Homo sapiens: one gene and its partners. The protein of the gene in region 4 purifies or fractionates together with the protein of the main gene of each other region. This does not show direct contact. Each region holds a gene or a part of one and is shown on either strand. Other genes may lie near its edges. The genes, in order: SNAP29, ARMC8, MKLN1, ANGPTL4, DNAJB4 and NMT1.

Evidence for each region.
Region 1: the proteins of ANGPTL4 (region 4) and SNAP29 purify together in Homo sapiens (affinity purification with mass spectrometry; one large-scale study listed by BioGRID and IntAct). This does not show direct contact.
Region 2: the proteins of ANGPTL4 (region 4) and ARMC8 purify together in Homo sapiens (affinity purification with mass spectrometry; 2 studies listed by BioGRID and IntAct, with this or other methods). This does not show direct contact.
Region 3: the proteins of ANGPTL4 (region 4) and MKLN1 purify together in Homo sapiens (affinity purification with mass spectrometry; one large-scale study listed by BioGRID and IntAct). This does not show direct contact.
Region 5: the proteins of ANGPTL4 (region 4) and DNAJB4 purify together in Homo sapiens (affinity purification with mass spectrometry; one large-scale study listed by BioGRID and IntAct). This does not show direct contact.
Region 6: the proteins of ANGPTL4 (region 4) and NMT1 purify together in Homo sapiens (affinity purification with mass spectrometry; 2 studies listed by BioGRID and IntAct, with this or other methods). This does not show direct contact.

Annotation. Positions count from the first base shown.
Region 1 is NC_000022.11:20,862,007-20,865,506, reverse strand, and holds part of SNAP29 (synaptosomal-associated protein 29), read right to left. Parts: intron 1-3,500. UniProt on the Homo sapiens protein: SNAREs, soluble N-ethylmaleimide-sensitive factor-attachment protein receptors, are essential proteins for fusion of cellular membranes.
Region 2 is NC_000003.12:138,242,801-138,246,300, reverse strand, and holds part of ARMC8 (armadillo repeat-containing protein 8), read right to left. Parts: intron 1,214-3,500; coding exon 1,118-1,213; coding exon of another isoform or gene 1,052-1,117; exon of another isoform or gene 1-1,051. UniProt on the Homo sapiens protein: Component of the CTLH E3 ubiquitin-protein ligase complex that selectively accepts ubiquitin from UBE2H and mediates ubiquitination and subsequent proteasomal degradation of the transcription factor HBP1.
Region 3 is NC_000007.14:131,334,376-131,337,875, reverse strand, and holds part of MKLN1 (muskelin), read right to left. Parts: intron 1-3,500. UniProt on the Homo sapiens protein: Component of the CTLH E3 ubiquitin-protein ligase complex that selectively accepts ubiquitin from UBE2H and mediates ubiquitination and subsequent proteasomal degradation of the transcription factor HBP1.
Region 4 is NC_000019.10:8,367,155-8,370,654, reverse strand, and holds part of ANGPTL4 (angiopoietin-related protein 4 isoform a precursor), read right to left. Parts: intron 1,437-3,500; coding exon 1,323-1,436; intron 1-1,322. UniProt on the Homo sapiens protein: Mediates inactivation of the lipoprotein lipase LPL, and thereby plays a role in the regulation of triglyceride clearance from the blood serum and in lipid metabolism. May also play a role in regulating glucose homeostasis and insulin sensitivity.
Region 5 is NC_000001.11:78,014,939-78,018,464, reverse strand, and holds the end of DNAJB4 (dnaJ homolog subfamily B member 4), read right to left. Parts: intron 2,452-3,526; coding exon 2,218-2,451; 3' UTR 501-2,217; downstream 1-500. UniProt on the Homo sapiens protein: Probable chaperone. Stimulates ATP hydrolysis and the folding of unfolded proteins mediated by HSPA1A/B (in vitro).
Region 6 is NC_000017.11:45,064,317-45,067,816, reverse strand, and holds part of NMT1 (glycylpeptide N-tetradecanoyltransferase 1), read right to left. Parts: intron 1-3,500.

The DNA of each region.
Region 1 (3,500 bases), on a different chromosome or scaffold from region 4:
TCCTTGGGACAATGTGGCAGCTGTGAGTGGATGTGCCCAGGAAGGAGAAGCCAGAAGCTCGAACAACCAGCCCATCCTCAGAAGGCATCCTGTTACAGCCAACAAGCCAGCAAATTGGCCTGGGATCAATGGTCTAATTCTTTTTTTTTTTTGAGACAGGGTCTCACTTTGTCACCCAGGCTGGAATACAGTGGCATGACCTCAGCTCACTGCAGCCTTGACCTCCCTGGTTCAAGAGATCCTCCTACCTCAGCCTTCTGAGTAGCTGGAACTACAGGCATGCACCGCCATGCCCAGGTAATTTTTGTATTTTTTGTAGAGCCAGGGTTTTACCACATTCCCCAGGCTGATCTTGAACTCCTGGGTTCAAGGGATCCACCTGCCTCAGCCTCCCCAAGTGCTAGGATTACAGGTGTGAGCCACCACACCTGGCCATCAATGGTCAAATTCAATCATTGATAGTTTACCAAAAATTAATTAAAAATAAATCCCGAACAGACCTAGCGGTGAGTATGTGGTCCAATGCCATTTCTCCACCAGACTCCCTCCCACCTGCTAGACACAGCCTGACATGTGTTGGGATGCATTTTCTGGTCACAGGACAGGCATTGCAACCAAGGCACACAGCTCAATGCATTCTTTCCACCCAACTCTCTCCTCCTTTTTCAGGCAATCTTCTGTTCCCTCCCTCCTTCCTTTCCTTCCCCAGGTCACTTATTCATTTGGCAACTATTTTGGGAGCGCCAATAACGCTTAAGGACATTGTGCTGAGAAGCGTGGGGGTAGAAAGTTGAGCAAGAGATGGGTAAGAGACTGCTCCTCTTCCACTGCTGACATTTACAAATTTGAGGAATTACTTAATCTAGCAGCTGCTTGTCCCCATCCATCAACTTTTGCTAAGAACTCTGGCTGCATCAGTATCACCACACGCTGCCTCAGAGGGGTGACTTTGGTCTGTACGGCCCCTCATTTGGAGTGGGCTGCTCCAAGACCAGAATCCCTGAGAATGAGGATATCACCTTTTGGCAATGTATCTACTCTAAGTTCCGGGGACACCTTGATGGCCTCTGCTCCTGGGCCAGGAGGGGTGTCCTCCTCTCTCCCACCTCTGAATGGAATGCCCAGTGTGGGTGACTGTTGTGTGCTGGAAAGACACAGAGATGGGTGGGCCCCTGCACGAGACGGTGTGGAGGATGTGCTGGCGGTGGCTGCTGAGTGCATCACGTTTGAACTCTCAAACTCTGTCCCTTTCCATTGATGTTACTGTGCCAGCCGTTCCAACCCTGGTCTAATGTTTGTTGCTGGACTCCCCTGAACCGAGATCTCGGGCCCCAGAAAACCTCAGTGGAGTTAAGTTCAGCTACAAGAGGGGAAGCAGAGTGTCCTGGGCAGGTGAGTCTCCTCCACTGGAGTGATGAAAAGGTGTACAAAAACCATGTCCAAGTAGGATGCAAATAGACTCACCAAAAGGTGTAAACAACCTCAATGCTCATCATTAGGGGACAGGCTGCATAAATAGAAGTCATTTGTTCAATGGAATACAACACAGCCAAAAAGAAAGCCCAGCTCATTACATACTAGTGTGGAACAAACTCCATTCTATTAAGCACATGCAGACCAGAATGTATACAATACTTCACTTAAAAAAAAAAACCCATTTTTATCCACGGCATTATCTCCCCAAAACACTGAAGGAGGGAAAGTGCCTGGCTGCCTTAGGGGCAGAGGGATGATAGGGAGGGAAGTGGGAGAAGACTACACCCTTTTGTATGTTTTGAAATTTTGAACCATGTGATTGGAATCTCTCTTCATAAAAATTAAACCTTAGGAAAAAAAAAAGAAGAAATCATGCTTACTAAACAGGGAAAGAGACGAGTGGCTTACAAGTCTCCCTGTAGTTCTACAAAGCGCCTACCAGGTCGGCCTGGGGAAACCGCCCTGCTCCCACTACTTCTCCTCTGTTCTTTTGTGGTCATAGCCTGTGGCCTGAGCCTTTGTGAGAAACAATCCTTGCCAGGTTTCACAGTAGGAGAAGGGCAGCTCTCTTTGCTAGAGGTGACTTAACTAAGCCATTTTCCTGCCAAGCTGGGACTGAATTATAATCTTCCCAACCTAATATAATTTGTAAAGTCCTCATCTTTGACATAAATCTGTCATGTGTTGGCATGTTTCACAGTGCTGGGGTAACCAGGCACCTAAGTTGGGTGATTAGCAGGGTATGCTGGAATTTGCTGGAAGCCACACTGTGCACTGAGGGTTGGAAGAGCTCATACTCCTCTGTTCCCATCCCAACACCAAAGGGAATGAAAGAGTGATTAGAGTGATTCAAAGACAGCTTGGAGCCTGTAATCCAGCACTGGGAGGCCAAGGTGTGCAGATCATCTGAGCTCAGGAATTCGAGACTAGCCTGGGTAACATGGCGAAAGCCCATCTCCACCAAAAATACCAAAAATTAGTCGAGTGTGGTGGCGTGCACCTGTAGTCTTGGCTACTTGGGAGGCTGTGGCAGGAGGATCACTTGCACCTGGAGGCAGAGGCTGCAGTGAGCCAAGATTGCACCACGGCACTCTAGCCTGGTTGACAGAGTGAGACCCCCATCTCAAAAAACCTCCCCCAAAACAAAACACAAAAACAAAGACAGCTTGGAGAACACTGGGTGTGGTGGAGATGTAGGTCATCCCTGACTCCCAGGGCTTCTCATAATTGAGAACTGACCCAATCCTGGAAAATTCCAACATGTTGTCTCACTGACAAGAGCACCTGTCACCTGCCCAGTCATGACCACACTGTACTTCTCACAGCAATGCCTGGCCTGGCCAAGCCTGATATGCCTGAAGTGCCACTCTGCCTCAGCTCTCACTGTCCCCACTGCATAGAAAGACCTTTGGGGGCAGCACGGGGCATGTCATCACAATCTATATCAAACTCACCACTATTACATTTTTGCCTCTCCTGCGCTATGAGACCAGAACTTTCCCTATGACCTCCAAGGGCTCCTAAGCTACCTCCTCCATCCCCTGTCCTCTAACACACCCAGTCTATCATGTCCCTCCTCTGGACCCAGGAGCTCTGTTGCTGGGCCAGTGCATTTGCATATTTTCCTGTCTTCCCTAAGAACATCCCTCATTCTCACTCCTCTTGTGTAAACCTCAGCCTTAAAAGCTAGATTCAAGTTTATCCTCTGCCACAATGCCCTACTTTGAATCATTGATTCCCTACTTCATTTGTTCTCAGTTTACAAAGATGTCTCCTTAAATAGTTGTTAGTTGAATTCCTTGGGCTTGAGATCCTCAATCATGTGACCCATTCACCAGGGCCCTAAAACCTCAGGCAATCCTCTCAAATCTAAGCCAAGACTTCCCATTTAGAATGGAACATAGGAATCCAGTAGGTATGAGATGTAAGAACTACAGGCAAAACCTCCCTAACAAGGTTAGGACCGGGCGCAGTGGCTCACATCTGTAATCCCAGCACTTTGGGAGGCTGAGGTGGGCAGATCA
Region 2 (3,500 bases), on a different chromosome or scaffold from region 4:
CTTGTTAACTGAAATAAAGTGAGGTACATGGAAACATTCAATTTATTAGTTGTGCTTTTTGCATTGATTTTAAATCAAAGCTACTCACACATCAAATCTTATTGCTATTACTTCAGTTTCTTCAAGAAATGGTTCCTTTTCAAGTTATTTCAACAAATGTAAGGTTGTTCCATACTCCTCTTTCTACAGGCCTGAAGAACTTCTCTGAATCATGGTAAACTCTAATACTTTGTGATTTCTCTCACAGTGCTCCTTAAAATACTAATGCAGATGGAGAGATTTAGTAAATCATCATGTTCAGTAAATAATGACTAATTTGCTCTTTCTGCTATGGCTCCTCAAGACAGAACATGTGGTTTTGCTCTCTGATGGTCTTGAAAGCCTTGTGTAGAATTTATTAGGTTATACATGTTTTTGAGTGGTAAGTTCCAGCTTTTTGGTTTGTGGAAGGAGCCAAGTCAGAGCTTACTTACCACTATACTCCTCATCTAGAAGTATTCTCATCAAGAACATGAGTTCAGTGTTAGACTAGGCTTTAGTAACATAAGGGTGCTATACCAGTGCATACATTTTCTGGGGAGCTGGAAAATTCAGATGACCACTCACTAAACATAAAATCATCATTCCACAAAGATTTTATTCACATTAAACTTGCACAGTAGCAAAAAAAATCAAAACATAAAACTAAGCCACATATCAAAGAACAATATACAATAGAGATTTGAATTTCTCAATAGCATTGGAAGGTATTTCCATAAATAACATTTACAATTCTAATGTTAGGACTTTCAAGGTGTCTGAAGCTTCACAGTGCTAGAATTGATTTTTATCAGAACACATGCAAAAATGTGCAACATAATAATTCATATTAATGACACAAAAAAAAAGCACGCCAGTTATTTGTCATTCCAGCACGGCCATGCCACTCTATGTTCTAAAAACAAACAAACAACCCCCCAAATCCGGGTCCCATTCATTCTTCAATTATGCCTTTAGTCACTCTGCTTTATTATATTCAAACAGTCACTGTTAGTGCTCTTCACCACGACTTTCAGGTTGACGTCACTCCCTGCCTGCTGGCTGTCAGGACTGGGGGACGCCCCTCTCCCAGACTCACCTTCTTCCGGATGTCTTCATCATTTGCTCCAAGAGAGGCATAGAGCTTGAATGCAGCCTGGCGGAGTTCGTGAGCATGTTTTAAATCATGATCAAGCTATGGGGAAAAAAAGGATATGTTCCAACTCAGTCCATAAATTCAACTTTCAATAACATTAACTGAGTTGAAGAAAAAAAAAGTTTACAACTTTTAGATTTTAGTGAATTTCCCAGTCATTAACTACATTTCCCAGTTATTTTTGGATTCTGTTCACATAGCACTGAGACTTTGCAGTGTTCGTATCAATGTGACCTAAAATGCACACAATATGCTTCCATTTAAAAGTGAACACTATATTTGACACTGATATATGAAAAACCATTGTGAATCTCTGACTCCGAAAAATTCAGTGTTCCTAAATGGTAGCTTTACTGGCACTAATGCTTGCTTGCAGCAGCTCTTTGAAATGTTCTCCTTCAAAAGAAGGCACACCTGGACTTCTCTAGCCCCAGACTACAGCTGATAACCTGAATGAAATCGCAACAATGTCTTTAGGAGGGTTCCCTTAATTTTCTGAAACATTAAGAGTAGTGCTGGCCTAATTTTGGCATTTAAAAAGCTTTTAGAGGCCGGGCGCGGTGGCTCACGCCTGTAATCCCAGCACTTTGGGAGGCCGAGGCAGATGGATCATGAGGTCAGGAGATCTAGACCATCCTGGCTAACACGATAAAACCCTGTCTCTACTAAAAATACAAAAAAATGAGCTGGGCGTGGTGGCAGGCGCCTGTAGTCCCAGCTACTTGGGAGGCTGAGGCGGGAGAATGGTGTGAACCCAGGAGGCAGAGGTTGTAGTGAGCCGAGATCGCGCCACTGCACTCTAGCCTGGGCAACAGAGCGAGACTACATCTCAAAAATAAATAAATAAATAAAAATAAATAAAATAAAAAGCTTTTAGAAACAGAGAACCCATTGTGAAAATGCTTAACAAACCGTATACTATGGTAACCATTATTATCTATTACAGTTATCTGAGATTTATGTTGGGTATGGGTTTTTTCAAGAACATTATCAAAATTATCAGCATGAAGCAATTAATGGTATCTTTAAACATGCATAACTAATTATCAACTCTTCTATAAACTTGATCACCAAACTACTGTAAAGATAAAACAGAAGCATATTTTCAGGATACTTTCAATGACTGACTATGACCAAGTAACTATACAAAGTCTACCAATAATATAAATAACCTCGTAACTAAAAGCCTTAATGTAATCATCCAAATGAATACCACTTTTCCCAAAGAAGTTACTTTGGAAAGGTTCACTCATCCAATGATGTAGGTGTTGTTCATAACATTCTGAGACCCTCTTTTGAAACTTCCTAAAGAGCTAACTGGTATTATTAGCTAGAAAACACTGACAGTGGTATAGCTTGATCAATGATGAGACTTTTAGTTGTCACTGACTGTGTGTGAAGATGGAGAAATTCAGTTGGGTAATATAACGTAGGTAACAAAAAATTCCACAGAAAGCAAAAGACAATATATATATTTTACATATATATATAATTTGGGGTGGCTCTGAAGGCAATTCTTAATAGTTCCAAAACTTCTGTTCAAAGCAGACACTGATGGATTATAGGAAGAACTTCCCAATACAGAATACTCACTTTGATAAGTTCTAAAAGTATCTACTCTTAAAGTCTTAACTACATTCTAGTCATAAATTAAGATATAATACTGACTTGAACTAACATATCATGAAAATCACAAATTTATTAACATGTGAAGATTTCTCTTTACGGGTCTAGTGTCTATACTTTTCGGGTCAGAAACCTTTGGATAATCCATCATCAAAAATAAAGATGACAAAACAAACTATTACTCAAGTTTGGTATTACGATGTCATTTTTAAGGATTATTGTTGTTACAGTTTTACTCTGATGGAAATGAAATGGAAAAACTAACAGAAGGGATAATCTACGTACTAGTTAAATGATTTGCATATGCATAGGCTACATGTTCTTAAAATTGTTTCCTTACTCTCATGGCCATCAAAACATTTTATTTGCCTTCCTGGGGTGGTCAACTCAGGGCGTTCATGAGGCAGTAGCTAAGGGTTGCTCATGTATCTTTGTATTGGTAAGATACAGTGTCAGTGTGAAAAAATGACCAGAAGGAAAACAGACAAGGCAACTGGTTAAATGTATGTAACCCATCACTTCTACTGGAAAAACACCACTACTGAAAGAAGAGCAGACACATAAGTTTAATACCCAGAGAGTAGAGTACATTACTAATACAAATACCAGTGAAGGTTATTTTAGGCCCTTCTTAAGACAGAGTAAAGATATACCCTTAATAGTTTGCTTTATTTTCAAAGTTAAAAGCCAAATGAACAAC
Region 3 (3,500 bases), on a different chromosome or scaffold from region 4:
AAAATTCTGCATATAATGTCTGGCACTCCATCAAAAAATTGCCTAATAATAATTATTACTATTATGTTATTATCCACATGTAATAATTTATATAATATACAATAGAATATATAATTAACATACATTAATATACAAATATATTAACTATTATTATTATTTGGCCTAACAAGATGCAAAATCAAAAGGAAAGAGATGATGGAAATAGGCCTATAGGTGATACAGATATTGAAGTTTTCAGACACAGACTTTAAAGCAATTTGATTAATATGCTCAAAAAATACATGACAAGAGATTTTCACATAATTAGAATCTATCTTAAAAAGAGAGGATGAAATAATTCTAAAACTAAAAAATACTATAACTAAAATTAAGAATAGATGGGGTTAAAAAGCAGATTGGACATAGTTAAATTCAGAATAAGTGAACTGAAATACAGTCAAGTAAAAACTATCCAGAACGGATAAGAGGAGGAAAAAAATCATAAAAATAACAGAAGAGAGCAGGAGACATATGGGGGATAAAAAGTATAATAAAGATTTAATTGGAGTCACAGAGCAAAGGAGACAAAAATGGGGCAGAAACAATATTTTTAAAAAGTCAAAATTTTTTCACAGCTGATCAGTCATACTACAAATTCAAGAGGTGCCAGAAACGCCAAACAGGGTACAAACAAAACCATTCTTAGGTGCATCACTGAAAGCTGTTTAAACTTAAAGAAAAAGAGAATGACAAAAAGAAAGGCAGCTGAACAAGAAAGTCATACTACCTTCCAAGAAGCAACAGTAAGTCTGACGGCTGATTTTGCAACAGAAACAATGGAAGCTAGAAGACAATGAACTGAGATCTTTAAAGTGCTTCAAGAAAATAACAGCTAATAATGTAGAACTGTACAGTCATTTAATATATTCTTCAAAGATGAAAATAAATAAATTTCAAACAAGCAAAAACTGAGAATTCAGTACCACCAAACTCCCTAAAAGGAGTTCTTCAGACAGAGGAAAATTAATCTCAGATGGAAGCATGTAAATACAAAAGGAAATAAAGAACAATGGAAAGGGTAAATATTAACTGTACAAAACAACAGTCTCTGGATTTAAATGTAGACGTGAAATGCATGACAATGACAACATAAAAGCAGGAGAGTGATAAATGCTATTAAAGTTTTCTAGGGTCCTAACAATGTCTGAGATGTTGTTTTTCAAAATCCTAATGAATATGCAACTCTAATGTACCACAAGAAAGCTTGTGGTGATCTAGCGTAACCACCAAAAGAACAGTAACAGAATATATAACTAACAAGCTAACAAAGGGAGGAATAAAATAATATTTTTAAAACACTTGATTAATCCAAAAGAAGGCAACAATGGAGAGAAAATAGAATATAGAACAAGTAGGACAAACAGAAAACAATAAAATGACAGACATAAACCCAAATTTATCAATAATTATATTTACCATTAATGAGCTAAATATATTTCAGATTTAATTAAAAACAGGCAAACAAAAATCTGTTTATTCTTAACAAGAAACAGACCCCAAATATAAAGCTACAGGAGCATTAAAAGCAAAAAGGAGAGAGAAAGTTTTACCATGCAAGCAAACAGCAGCCAAAATAAAGCAGGTGTAGCTAAGAAGACTTTGAGGCGAGAGACAAGTGTTACTAGAGATAAAAAGGGACATGTTATAATGATAAAGAGCCAATGTACTAGAAAGATAAGTTTGTATGTGCCTAGTAATATGACTTCAAAATACATAAAGCATACAGTTTAGTTCTTTATAGAACTAAAAGGAGAAATATACAAATCCACAATCACAGTAAGACACATTTGACACTTAACCTCAAGACACCTCTCTCTGTAATGAATAGAAAAAAAGGCAAAAAAAAAAAAATTCAGTAAGGATAGAGAAGATTTGTACAACACAATAACACAATTTACAAACTTGAACTTAACAAAGTACATAGAAGACAGTAGTTAACAGCAGAATGCATAGTCTTTTCAAGGGTACATAAACATTTATAAAAATGCTGAGCCATAAAATAAGTATCAATAAAGGTCTGAAACTATTCAGAGTGTGTTCTCTAATCATAGTGAAATTAAGAAATTAGTAACAGAAAGATAACTAGCAAATCCCCAAACGTTCAAAAAGTAAGCAATACATTTGTTAAAAAAAAAAAAAAACCTACAGGTCAAAGAATAAGCCAAAATAAAATCTGAAAAACATTTTTGCATAAATGATAATGAACATGTAACATACCACAATTTGTGGGATACAGCTAAAATGTGTTGAGAGGAAACCCTATAGTCTTAGGACTAAACATAGCCTAGTTTTCCAATTATTATTAACAACCAATTCAAAATATAAGTTATGTTAGGGTACTTCAATCTAGTTAGCTGCCATTCAACAACTTTTTTAGGGACAGATTTATATTAGACTACTTAAATTATTCCTAGATAATGACTATGATATTTCCTTTCTCTTTGTATACTTTTTTAAACATGGATTAATCTTAATCAGTAAAATTTCATCATAAGCAAAACCCATTAAACAAACAATATCTTTGTTTATCTACAGCATAAATATACATACACAGTATTCTACAGAATGTTACTTTGACTTCACAGATTTTTAGAAATATTCGTAACCAAGTCCTGAAGTTCTCATTAAACAACAACAAAAAAATTTTCTAACTGAAACATCTTCCCAATGTGCAAAGATGTTAAAAAATATTTTCTTCAAAAGTCCCCCATATTAATAGATTTTAATACTGCTGGACTTCTCAGAGCTTTATCTGACCACCCCTTAATAAGCAACAATCTACAGAACCAGCCATTCACAAAACAAGCCCTGGGAAATCCGGTAGCAGAGAAGATACCCGGATCAACTATCCTAAGATTGAACCTATAAAGACCTAGAAATTTTATAAATTTTCTATTGTCTCTTATCAGAGATTTCTGACAAATGGTATTATAAACAAACAGTAATTAGGGATCTCTAAATTCTCAACTGTACATTCTTTGAAACATTTTATACATATTAAAATGTCTATAAATAGCTGTATCTCTAAAATTAAAGTCTAGAAAATCTTTCATATTTCCAAAAACGATTTTTGAATGACTGAAATACAGCAAACTCATTGCCACAAGTGGCTGAAATGTATCTTATCTACACGTAAAACATCACAAAGTCTTTGTATCAGGCCAAAAATCATTTATTAAAAATCTATTTAAATATTTACCTAAAAGTTAACGCAAATAATAGAACCATTTACCCATGTGCCCAAAAAATTGTACATAAACCTCTCAACATTTGATCAAGATAAAAAGTATTTCTACACAAGAAACTGACGCTCAGAAAAGAATCATAACTTGCCAAAAGTCACAAATATCTAATTCTAGGAATCAGCTCTGTAGACTCAAATTCTCATCCTGAGTACATTTCTTCCATCTTGAGTGTTTTTATTTTTCTGAAGTTCTAAGAGTCCCAGACTGAAAAACACA
Region 4 (3,500 bases):
AATCTCAGCTCACTGCAACCTCTGCCTTCGGGGCTCAAGCGATTCTTGTGCTTCAGCCCCACAAGCAGCTGGAATCACAGGCACGCCCGGCTAATGTTTATGTTGGTAGAGATAGGGTTTCACCATGTTGGCCAGGCTGGTCTTGAACTTCTGACCTCAAGTGATTTGCCCGCCTCAGCCTCCCAAAGTGCTGGCATTTCAGGTGTAAGCCACCGTGCTCAGCCTTTGTTTTTTTTTAGAAACGAGGTTTTGTTGTGTTGCCCAGGTTGGAGTGCGGTGGCTATTCACAGGTGTGATCACGGCTCACGGCAGCCTTTAACTCCTGGGCTGAAGTGACCCTCCTGCCTTGGCCTCCCGAGTAGCTGGGACTACAGGCATGTGCCACCATGCCCAGCAAGGGCTGAATTTTATTTTATTTTATTTTATTTTCTCTTTTTTATTTTTTTGATGGGGGGACGGAGTCTCGCTCTGTCGCCCAGGCTGGAGTGCGGTGGCGTCATCTCAGCTCACTGCAACCTCTGCCTCCCAGGTTCAAGAGATTCTCCTGCCTCAGCCACCTGAGTAGCTGGGATTACAGGTGCACACCACCATGCCCGGCTAATTTTTGTATTTTTAGTAGAGACGGGGTTTCACCATGTTGGTCAGGCTGGTCTCGAACTCCTGACCTCGTGATCTGTCTGCCTCAACCTCCCAAAGTGCTGGGATTACAGGTGTGAGCCACTGCACTTGGCCTTTTTTTTTACTTTTACAAAATTTTTTGTAAAGATGAGCTCTCACTATGTTGTCCAGGCTGGTCTCGAACTTCTGGGCTCAAGTGATCCTCATGATAGGCCTCCCAAAGTGTCGGGATTACAGATATGAGCCACTACACCCAGACAAGGGCTGCATTTTAAAGAAAAGAGGCCAGGAGCAGTGGCTAATGCCTATAATCCCAGCATTTTGGGAGGCCAAAGTCGGCAAATCATTTGAGGTCAGGAGTTTGAGACCAGCCAGACCAACATGGTGAAACCCAGTCTCTACTAAAAATACAAAAATTAGCTGGGTGTGGTTGCTCGCACCTGTAGTCTCAGCTACTGGGGAGGCTGACGCTGGAGAATTGCTTGAACCCGGGAGGCGGAGGTTTCAGTGAGCTGAGATCGTGGCATTGCACTCCAGCTCCAAGAGCAAAACTCCATCTCAAAAAAAAAAAAAAAAAAAAAGACCAGCTTGGGCAACATAGCAAGACCCTGCCTTTAATTTTTTTGTTTTGTTTTGTTTTCAATTTAAAGAAAGACAACAGGGCCTATGGGGAGAGGGGCCCCTGGTGGACTAACACACCCTACCTGAGGTCATCTTGCAGTTCACCAAAAATGGCGGAGACCCCTGAGGCTGGATTTCAAATAGTCCACTCTGCCTCTCCCCAACCTGGAACAGCTCCTGGCAATCCCTGGGCAGCCCTGAAGGGAGATAAAGTGGAGACTTGAAACAGGAGGGCAGCCCCTGGGGGGGGTCTCAGGAGCCAGGCATATCTGGGGGCTTAACAGTGGATGACCAGGGAAGTAAAAGGCAAATCTTATCTCATGACCACCTCTCTGCCATCTGCCTAACCTCTTCCATGGCTCCCTATGTCCTTCCTCAGCATGGTCCACAAGGCACCTGGAGGACCAGCCCCCGTGCCCATCCTCCTCCTGCCATGCTGTACCCACACCCTCTCTGGCACACAGGCTTTCTTCCCACCCTTGTACCACACACCGTCCTGCCACAGGGACTTTGCACATGCTGTTCCCCCTGCCTGGGACTCTCTTTTTTTGTTTTGTTTTTTGATACGGAGTCTCGCTCTGTCGCCAGGCTGGAGTGCAGTGGCGCAATCTTGGCTCACTGCAACCTCCGCCTCCCAGGTTCAAGCAATTCTGCCGCAGCCTCCGGAGCAGCTGGGACTACAGGCATGTGCCACCACGCCCGACTAGTTTTTGCATTATTTGTAGAGACGGGGGTTTCACCATGTTGGCCAGACTGGTCTCGATCTCCTGACCTCGTGATCCGCCAGCCTTGGCCTCCCAAAGTGCTGGGATTACAGGTGTGAACCACTGCGCCCGGCGGGACTCTCTTTCCTCACTTCTCTCTCTGGGTCCCAGCTTCTGGAAGGACACCCTGCCTTGCCTCACCCCCAGACCAGGCCAGAACACCCCAAATGGGAATTGAGCAAGGACTTCCCACTCCTGGACACTGAGGTCATCTAATGGTCTCTCCTCTGACTCAATGGAGGCTCCATGAGGCTGGGGACAAGGAGCAGCTCTGCCCACAGCCTGGCACCAGCATCCACGCAGGCCCCAGCGCATAGCAGCTGCTCAATAAAGACTTGAGGAATGGGCCGGGCGCAGTGGTTCATGCCTGTAATCCAGCACTTTGGGAGGCGGGCGGATCGGTCAGGAGTTTGAGACCAGCCTGGTCAACATGGCCAAACCCCATCTCTAGTAAAACATACAAAGATTAGCTGGGTGTGATGGTGGACGCCAGTAATCCCAGCTCCTTAGGAGGCAGAGGCAGGAGAATCACTTGAACCCGGGAGGCAGAGGTTGCAGTCAGCTGAGGTTGAACCATTGCACTCCAACCTGGGTGACAGAGTGAGACTCTGTCTCAAAAAAAAAAAAGACTTGATAAATGAATAAAAATTAGCTGGGCGTGGTGGCGGTAGGCGCCTATAATCCCATCTACTTGAGAGGCTGAGGCAGGAGAATCACTTGAACCCAGTGGGAGGCAGAGGTTGCAGTGAGCTGAGATTGCGCCACTGCACTCCAGCCTGGACAACAGAGCGAGACTCCGTCTCAAAAAGCAAACAAAACAGTCTTGACAAATGAATGAATGAATGAATGAATGAGGCAGCAGGTCCAGAACGGGAAGAACTGTGCTGAGCAGGAGCATCTCAGAGGCTCTGCCTGGGGTCCCAGCTCCTAGAGGGAGAGGAGGCAGGGTTGAGGAAAGAAAGAGGGAGGGAGGAGGGGAGGATGGCGTTGAGCACGTCTGGAGGCTCAGACGCTCCAGACTGGGAGGAACCGCCCCCAGCCCAGCCGGAAAAGTAGGGGAAAGGTCGAAATGAGTCTGCACGGTGGGGGTGGGGGCGGGCCCAGAGTGACCAGGAAGACGCTTTCCGGCCCCTCAGGCATCTCCCCTTTCCCCTACTTTCCTCCCATCCAGTAAGGATGGGCACGCGGCCAAACCACCAGTGTGGCTTCCATGAATGCCAGCTGTTCGCCTTCCCAGCTCTGAACTTTCTCCTACTTGGCGGGCCTGAGCCAAGAGTCTGGGAGTCCCGAACCCACAGAACCCCTGCCCCCTTCCACCGCATTTCCCAGCCAGGACTTGTGCCTTCCCCCGTCACCCTCCAGAAGCCCCTCATCCTGGGATGGTGGCTTTGGGAGGGTGGACAGGACCCTGACCACGCTGAGATGCTAGCCTGGCGGGGTTGGGGGCGGGCAGCACGGAGGTGGGAAGGAGCGGGAGCTTGGGGAGGAGAGAACCCT
Region 5 (3,526 bases), on a different chromosome or scaffold from region 4:
ATTGTCAATATCCTTTAAGATAAGAGAGATACTGGTATACTGGTTTTGTGTAGTTATGTAAATTTATTTACTACTAGAATAATAATTCTCTGCTTAAAAAAACTTTTTAATCCAAAGATTATTATATATCTATCTATAAATCATTTATTTTACCTGGGAGAAAATGCTTAATCAAGAAAATTGCAATAAATAATGATGGGTTTAAAACAGAAACCACTATCATTCACCACGTTGACTGATGCTTTTCAGATCTAGATCTTTAGACTTGTGAGAAAATTTCTGTAATGTTCACACTTCTGTAGGGAGTTTTAACTGTCATTCAGAGAGACAGTTATAGAGGAATCATTTATGAATTAGAGTAATAAATACGATTAGCTGAATTCTGTGGCATTTTTTTCAAGCATTTTCCATTTGCAACTCAAATATATGGTTACTCCCAGAAATTCCACTTTTAGGTATATACCCATGAGAATTGAAACACAAAAACTTGCACACAAATGTTCACAGCAGCATTATTTATAATAGCCAAAAAAGTAGAAATAAGCCAAATGCCCATAATTAATGAAAAGATAAACAAATTGTGGTATATCCATATGACGTGCCACACAAAAAATAAAGTACTGATACGTGATACAACATAGATGAACCTTGAAAACATTAAGCTAAATGAAAGAGGCCAGACCAAAAAAAAAAAAAGCCATATATTGTTTGAGTCTATTTATGTGAAATGTCCAGAACAGACAAATCCATACAGATGAAAAGTAGATGGTAGTGTTTTCAGGGGCTGGAGGAAGGGAAGAATGGGAAGTAACTGCTAATGGATTTAGGATTTCTTTTTGGGGTGATGAAAATATTCTGGAATTAGAAAGTGATGATGATTGTACCACTTTGTAAATATCACTAAAAACCACTGAATTATATATTTTAAGGGTAAACTTTATGGCATGTAAATTATATCTCAATAAAGTAATAAAGAATATGGCTATTATAACCTATTTATATTGGATTTCTAAAAGAATATTTCATATTCTACTAAAAGGCGATAGGATCCAGTATATATATATATAATCCTGAAAACTATTTTATAACCAAAAATTTTGCTTCAAAACATCATTCTCACTATAGTTATAAAACAGAAAACAAAACTAAATTTTTAAAACATAAATATATTTAAAAAATTAAAACACCTAAGAAATGCAATCTATACATGTGAAAAAGTAAAATATTTATATGCATAACAAGTAGTTGCAACATTATCCATAAGCAGCAGTTAGTGTTTATTTTCCCTATATTTTGGTTTAACACCATAGTGTAGTGGTAGTTCATTCTTTTTAGGGAAATTACATAAAGTACATATAGAATATTATTAGTAAGTTATAGAAGACTGTATAACTGGAAAATTAATTCCAAGTAACAGCATTTCCTCTAAAAACACATCTATTATTAAACGAATTACTTTAAACTAGCAGAGAACAAAATGAGCCTATAATTTATTAAGTACAAGATATATAGTCAACTTGCATAAAATTACATATGGCATTTTAAAAAGTCTATTCTAAAATATCAGTAATTCAAGCAATTGGGATTTCCACAGGAGAGAAATTGCCATTACTTTCCTTTTTATGAAGAAAGATCTGCCTTAAGAACATCACAACGATGTTATTAAGAAATGCTACAGCATACTTTAAAAATCAAAATGGTGAAACAGATGCATCAGGATATTCTTTTACAGATACCAGCCCTATAGCAGCATTTCAGAAGGTGATTTAAATCTAATAACTGACTTGGGTTTTTATTCTCTTCTAGAAATACATATTACATGTATAGTTTAGTTAAGAATTTTCATTTCCATTATAAATGGGAACTTTTCATACTGATTATCTAAAGGTATAAGAAATTAAGTAATTGGATAGTCTAGCACTTCATTAGAAATATATCCACTGACTCCACAAAAACAACTTTTACATATAAGCAAATTACTAAAAATATCTGAATCAGGAGAAATGAAATAAAATACAGTGAATGGTTTTCTCTTTTATCTCTAACTGTAAAAATCCCTTTTGCCTATTTATTTGACCCGTCTCTATTCATGCAATTTAATGAACCCTCAAAAGAATTTACACATCTTTATACAGAATTCACATCTACATCAGTAAACTACCAGTCCTTTTATATTTTCAGTGCCTTATCAAAATATGTGTAACAAAGTTCTTCATTCTATGAGGCAGGAAGATGTTTCCTAAGTACTTCTTTGGATGAAGAAGATATAGTATCTGGGAAGGACACCTCAAATTCTATTAGAAGGTCACCACGTTGGTCAGGATTTTTTGGAAATGGCAGCCCATATCCAATAATTCTTCTCCTCATTCCGGGTTTCACAATATCATTTACTGACATAGGTATGTTTCTTCCATCCAGTGTTGGTACATTAATTGAGCAGCCACACAATGCCTAAAATGGACCAAATAAAATAAAATGAAAACACTTCAAAACTCAAAAATCTAAGCACAAATTTTACCAGATGGTAAAGGATAATACCACTAAGGTAAAACTTTAACCTCCAAAAGAATAACAATAGTTATAAATTTTTTTTCCTCATTAGAAAATTCCTTCAGAGGTCAGGCACGGTGGCTCACACCTGTAATCTCAACATTTTGGGAGGCCAAGGCGGGCAGATCACCTGAGGTCAGGAGTTCAAGACCAGCCTCACCAACATGGAGAAATCTTGTCTCTACTAAAAATACAAAATTAGGCGAGCGTGGTGGCACATGCCTGTAATCCCAGCTACTCGGGAAGCTGAGGCAGGAGAATCACTTGAACTCAGCAGGCGGAGGTTGCAGTGAGCCGAGATCGTGCCATTGCACTCCAGCCTGGGCAACAAGAGCAAAACTGTCTCAAAAAAAAAAAAAAAAAAGAAGAAAGAAAGAAAGAAAAAGAAAAAGAAAAGAAAAGAAAAAAAGGAAAATTCCTTCAGGACATGCATTATTAGATATGTTACAAAAAAAAAAAAAAAAGAAGAAGAAAAGAAAAGGTAAAAGAGAAGTAAAGGATATATTCCACATTGCCCTGGAATGACATGGTTATTTTGAAGCTGCTATTAATATATTCAAGATGCAGGGATTGGAATGGGAGAAGAGGGAGAAATTCAGGACTAGAAAGAACTGGATAGGAGCAACTATTTCTCTGGAAAGTATTAGGACAAGAAATATATTTGTTTTAGATAACAAATGTTTACTGAGCATTTACTATATGCCACACATTCTGGCTAGATGGTGAGCCTTATAGGGACCATGAACACAGACCCCAGCTCAAGGAATGCACAAGGAACTCACAGAAACATAGAAGCAAACTAGCCATTATAATACTGTATAGTGTAAGAACAGAGGTAAGCATGGAGGTCTTTTGTAAGAGAAAGAGCACCCAACTTAACCCCTTAGATTCCGGGAGTAGAGGATGCTTGAACTAAGCATTGGGCAGTAGCAGGTAGGTATTAGAGCAGGGTAAGAAACAATAGTGTTCCATAGAG
Region 6 (3,500 bases), on a different chromosome or scaffold from region 4:
CTTTGAAGCAGCTCTTGATTAGTTTCTTTTTAATTGCCATTTAATTGGGAAACAAAATTAGAACACTTATTTGATATCAGTGATGAGGTTTCTCTTTCCATTCTGCTTTGATCTAGTTTTGAAAAACCAAAAGTTGAAGGGAGAAATTAAAAAGGAACTAAAAAGATTTCTTATTTCCAAGAGCTAGCTGCAGCTATAAGCCATCAAATAAATAGGGAAAGAACGACTCTTGGAGAAGCTGAAGAAAAAAACAAAAACAAGTAAGGCTAGCTTTATGGAATTTATTTTCAGAAAGACTTTTCTCTCCTCCTAAGTTTTCATAAGGGATAGTATCTCACAACCAGGAAATGAGGAGAACTTATAAAGAATCCATGTTAACCTGTCCCAGGGAGTAAGAGAGCAGGATGGAGATGAGACACCTCTTGTCAGAGGGCTCTTGACCCGTGCTTACCAGGATCTCAATGACACTGAAGACACTGCAAAATAAATTCCGAAAGATTCCTAGAACACAATAGTCTAAAAGTTCTTTTTTGTTCCAAAACACTCAGACAATCTTCACTTATTACCCCCAAATTAAAATCTGCCAACTGATGAGATTTATTCTTTGGCAATACTTCTTGGAAAGACTCTCATTAAAAAAAAAAAAAAATCAAATTAAACCATATAGATGAATCACGAACTACAGGGGGATGCTGCATAAAGGTTATCTTATCTGACTCTCCTCTCAATTGTTCAGGATAATTACGCTAGGCACGTAACTGGGGGAAATTGAGTGCAGTAAAAAAACAAACAAAACCAGCTGGATGCAGGAGCTTATGCCCACAATCCCAGCAGTTTGGGAGGCCAAGGTGGCAGCATCACTTGAGGCCAGCAGTTTGAGACCAGCCTGGGCTAAATAGTGAGACCCCATCTCTACAGAAACTTTTTAAAAAGAAAATTAGCCAGGGATGATGGTGCATGTCTACAATCCTAGCTACTTGGGAGGCTGAGGTGGGAGGATCGCTTGAGCCCAGGTCAAAGGCTGCAGTAAGCCATGATCACACCACTGTACTATAGCCTGGACGACAGAGCGAGGCCCTGTTTCCAAAGTAATAACAATAATTTTAAAATTAAATTAAAAAATTTTTAAATAGAAAAACTGAAGAGACGCACCCATACACACTGCATATGTATGCATGTATACCTATATGTATACATGAAGGGTTTGGGTTTTTTTGTTTTTATTTATAGAGATGGGGTCTCACCATGTTGCCCAGGCTGGTCTCGAACTCCTGAGCTCAAGTGATTTTTCTGCCTCAGCCTCCCAAAGTGCTGAGATTACAGGCATGAGCCACTACACACAACCACATGAAGTTTTATATTCACCAAATGTTTATGCTGATTTAATTACGGAGGAAACACAAGACCAGAAAAGTCAAGAACTAAATTCATATACAAAGAGACATAAGTAACTAATACAACTGGCCGGGCGTGGTGGCTCACACCTGTAATCCTAGCACTTTCGGAGGCCAAGGCAGGTGGATTGCCTGAGCTCAGGAGTTCAAGACCAGCCTGGGCAACAACGGTGAAACCCCGTCTCTACTAAAATATGAAAAATTAGCCGGGTGTGGCAGTGTGCTCCTGTAGTCCCAGCTACTCAGGAGGCTGAGGCAGGAGAATTTCTTGAACCCGGGAGGCAGAGGTTGCAGTGAGCCAAGATCGCGCCACAGCACTCCAGCCCGGGCAACAGAATCCAGTACATGAATTTAGCTCATTTTATTAGCATAGAGTACTATGACTTTAGTTCCTGAAAAAAAGGGGCAGGAGGCTGGGTGTGGTGGCTCATGCTTACAATCCCAGCACTTTGGGAGGCTAAGGCAGGAGGATCACTTGAACCCAGGAGTTTGAGACTAGTCTGAGCAACATAGCGAGACACAGTCTCTTTAAAAAAAAAAAAAGGCCCAGGAGAATAAGGGTTAGCTCGAACTATCATTAACCTTTATTATATATTACACATTTTAGACTCTCTAGCATTGAAAGGAAAACTTCTCTGTCAATTTTTACATGATTTTTGAGAACATTTTAAATAATATTAAGACAAAAAACATTTCAAGAAGCAAAACACAGTGGAAAGCACACAACAGTGGAAAGCTCCACAGCAAATTGGAGCTTCCTGGTTTCTGTAGGTATTTCTTTTTTTTTTTTTTTTTTTTTGAGACAGAGTCTGGCTCTGTCGCCCAGGCTGGAGTGCAATGGCGCAATCTCGGCTCACTGCAAGCTCCGCCTCACAGGGTCACACCATTCTCCTGCCTCAGCCTCCCGAGTAGCTGGGACTACAGGCATGCGCCACCACACCTGGCTAATTTTTTGTATTTTTATTAGAGATGGGGTTTCACTGTGTTAGCCAGGATGGTCTCGATCTCCTGACCTCATGATCCCGCCCGCCTTAGCCTCCCAAAGTGCTGGGATTACAGGTGTGAGCCACCATGCCCTGCCTCTGTAGGTATTTCATAAAAACTGTAGTGAGGCTTACAATGAGAATTATTTGGGGAGAGAAAATGTGTATGTAAGAAAAATCTGACATCCTCTCACTTGGTGAGGGGAGATGAAACTCCACTAATACTGGGCTAGGCACTTTAATATCTGCCATTCATTCATACAGCAAATACTCATTAATGCCCACTAAGTGCTAGGCATTTCGAAGACACAATCCTGTTTACATGCTCCTTACTGTCAGATGAGACAGGTACCAGACACATTAAGAAAAATTACCAAACATGTAGTTATATTTATTGTTATTATAACTATTGTTACGATAAAAGCTACAATACAGTATGTGATAAGAGCAGAGGGGCAAGCTGGGAGGTTAGGGACGATCTGAAGAAAGAGGAGGAGGGAGGAAAAGGAGTGCATTCCAGATGTTATCTCATTAATCCCTACAACTCTGAGTTAAGTACCTTTCCCAAGGTCACAGGACTGTTAAGTGTCAGAGCCAAGCTTTGAGATGAGATTTTGAGATCAGAGGCTTGCTCTGTCGCCCAGGCTGGAGTGCACTGGAGAGATCTCAGCTCAGTGCAACCTCTGCCTCCTGTTTTCAAGTGATTCTCCTGCCTCAGCCTCCTAAGTAGCTAGGATTACAGGCGCCTGCCATCATGCCCAGCTAATTTTTGTATTTTTAGTAGAGATGAGGTTTCACTATGCTGGCCAGGCTGGTCTCAAACTCCTGACCACAAGCGATCTGCCCACCTCAGCCTCCCAAAGTGCTGGGATTACAGATGTGCGCCACCGCGCCTGGCCTCAGACCAGATTTAAATTATTCCAAAGTCCATGCTTTTCTACTGTGCCGTGCTGCATTTTCCCACATTGCTGCTTCTCCCCAAAACCATTTCCTCTCAAAGTTCATGGAAAAATGTTGACTCTACCCCAGATTCTTAGTGCCAGAATTAGACTCTCTCCTCCAGACTAGGCCCTTGGTTTTTCACCTACTACCTCCAAACTCATTTTCACAGATCTTTAGATTT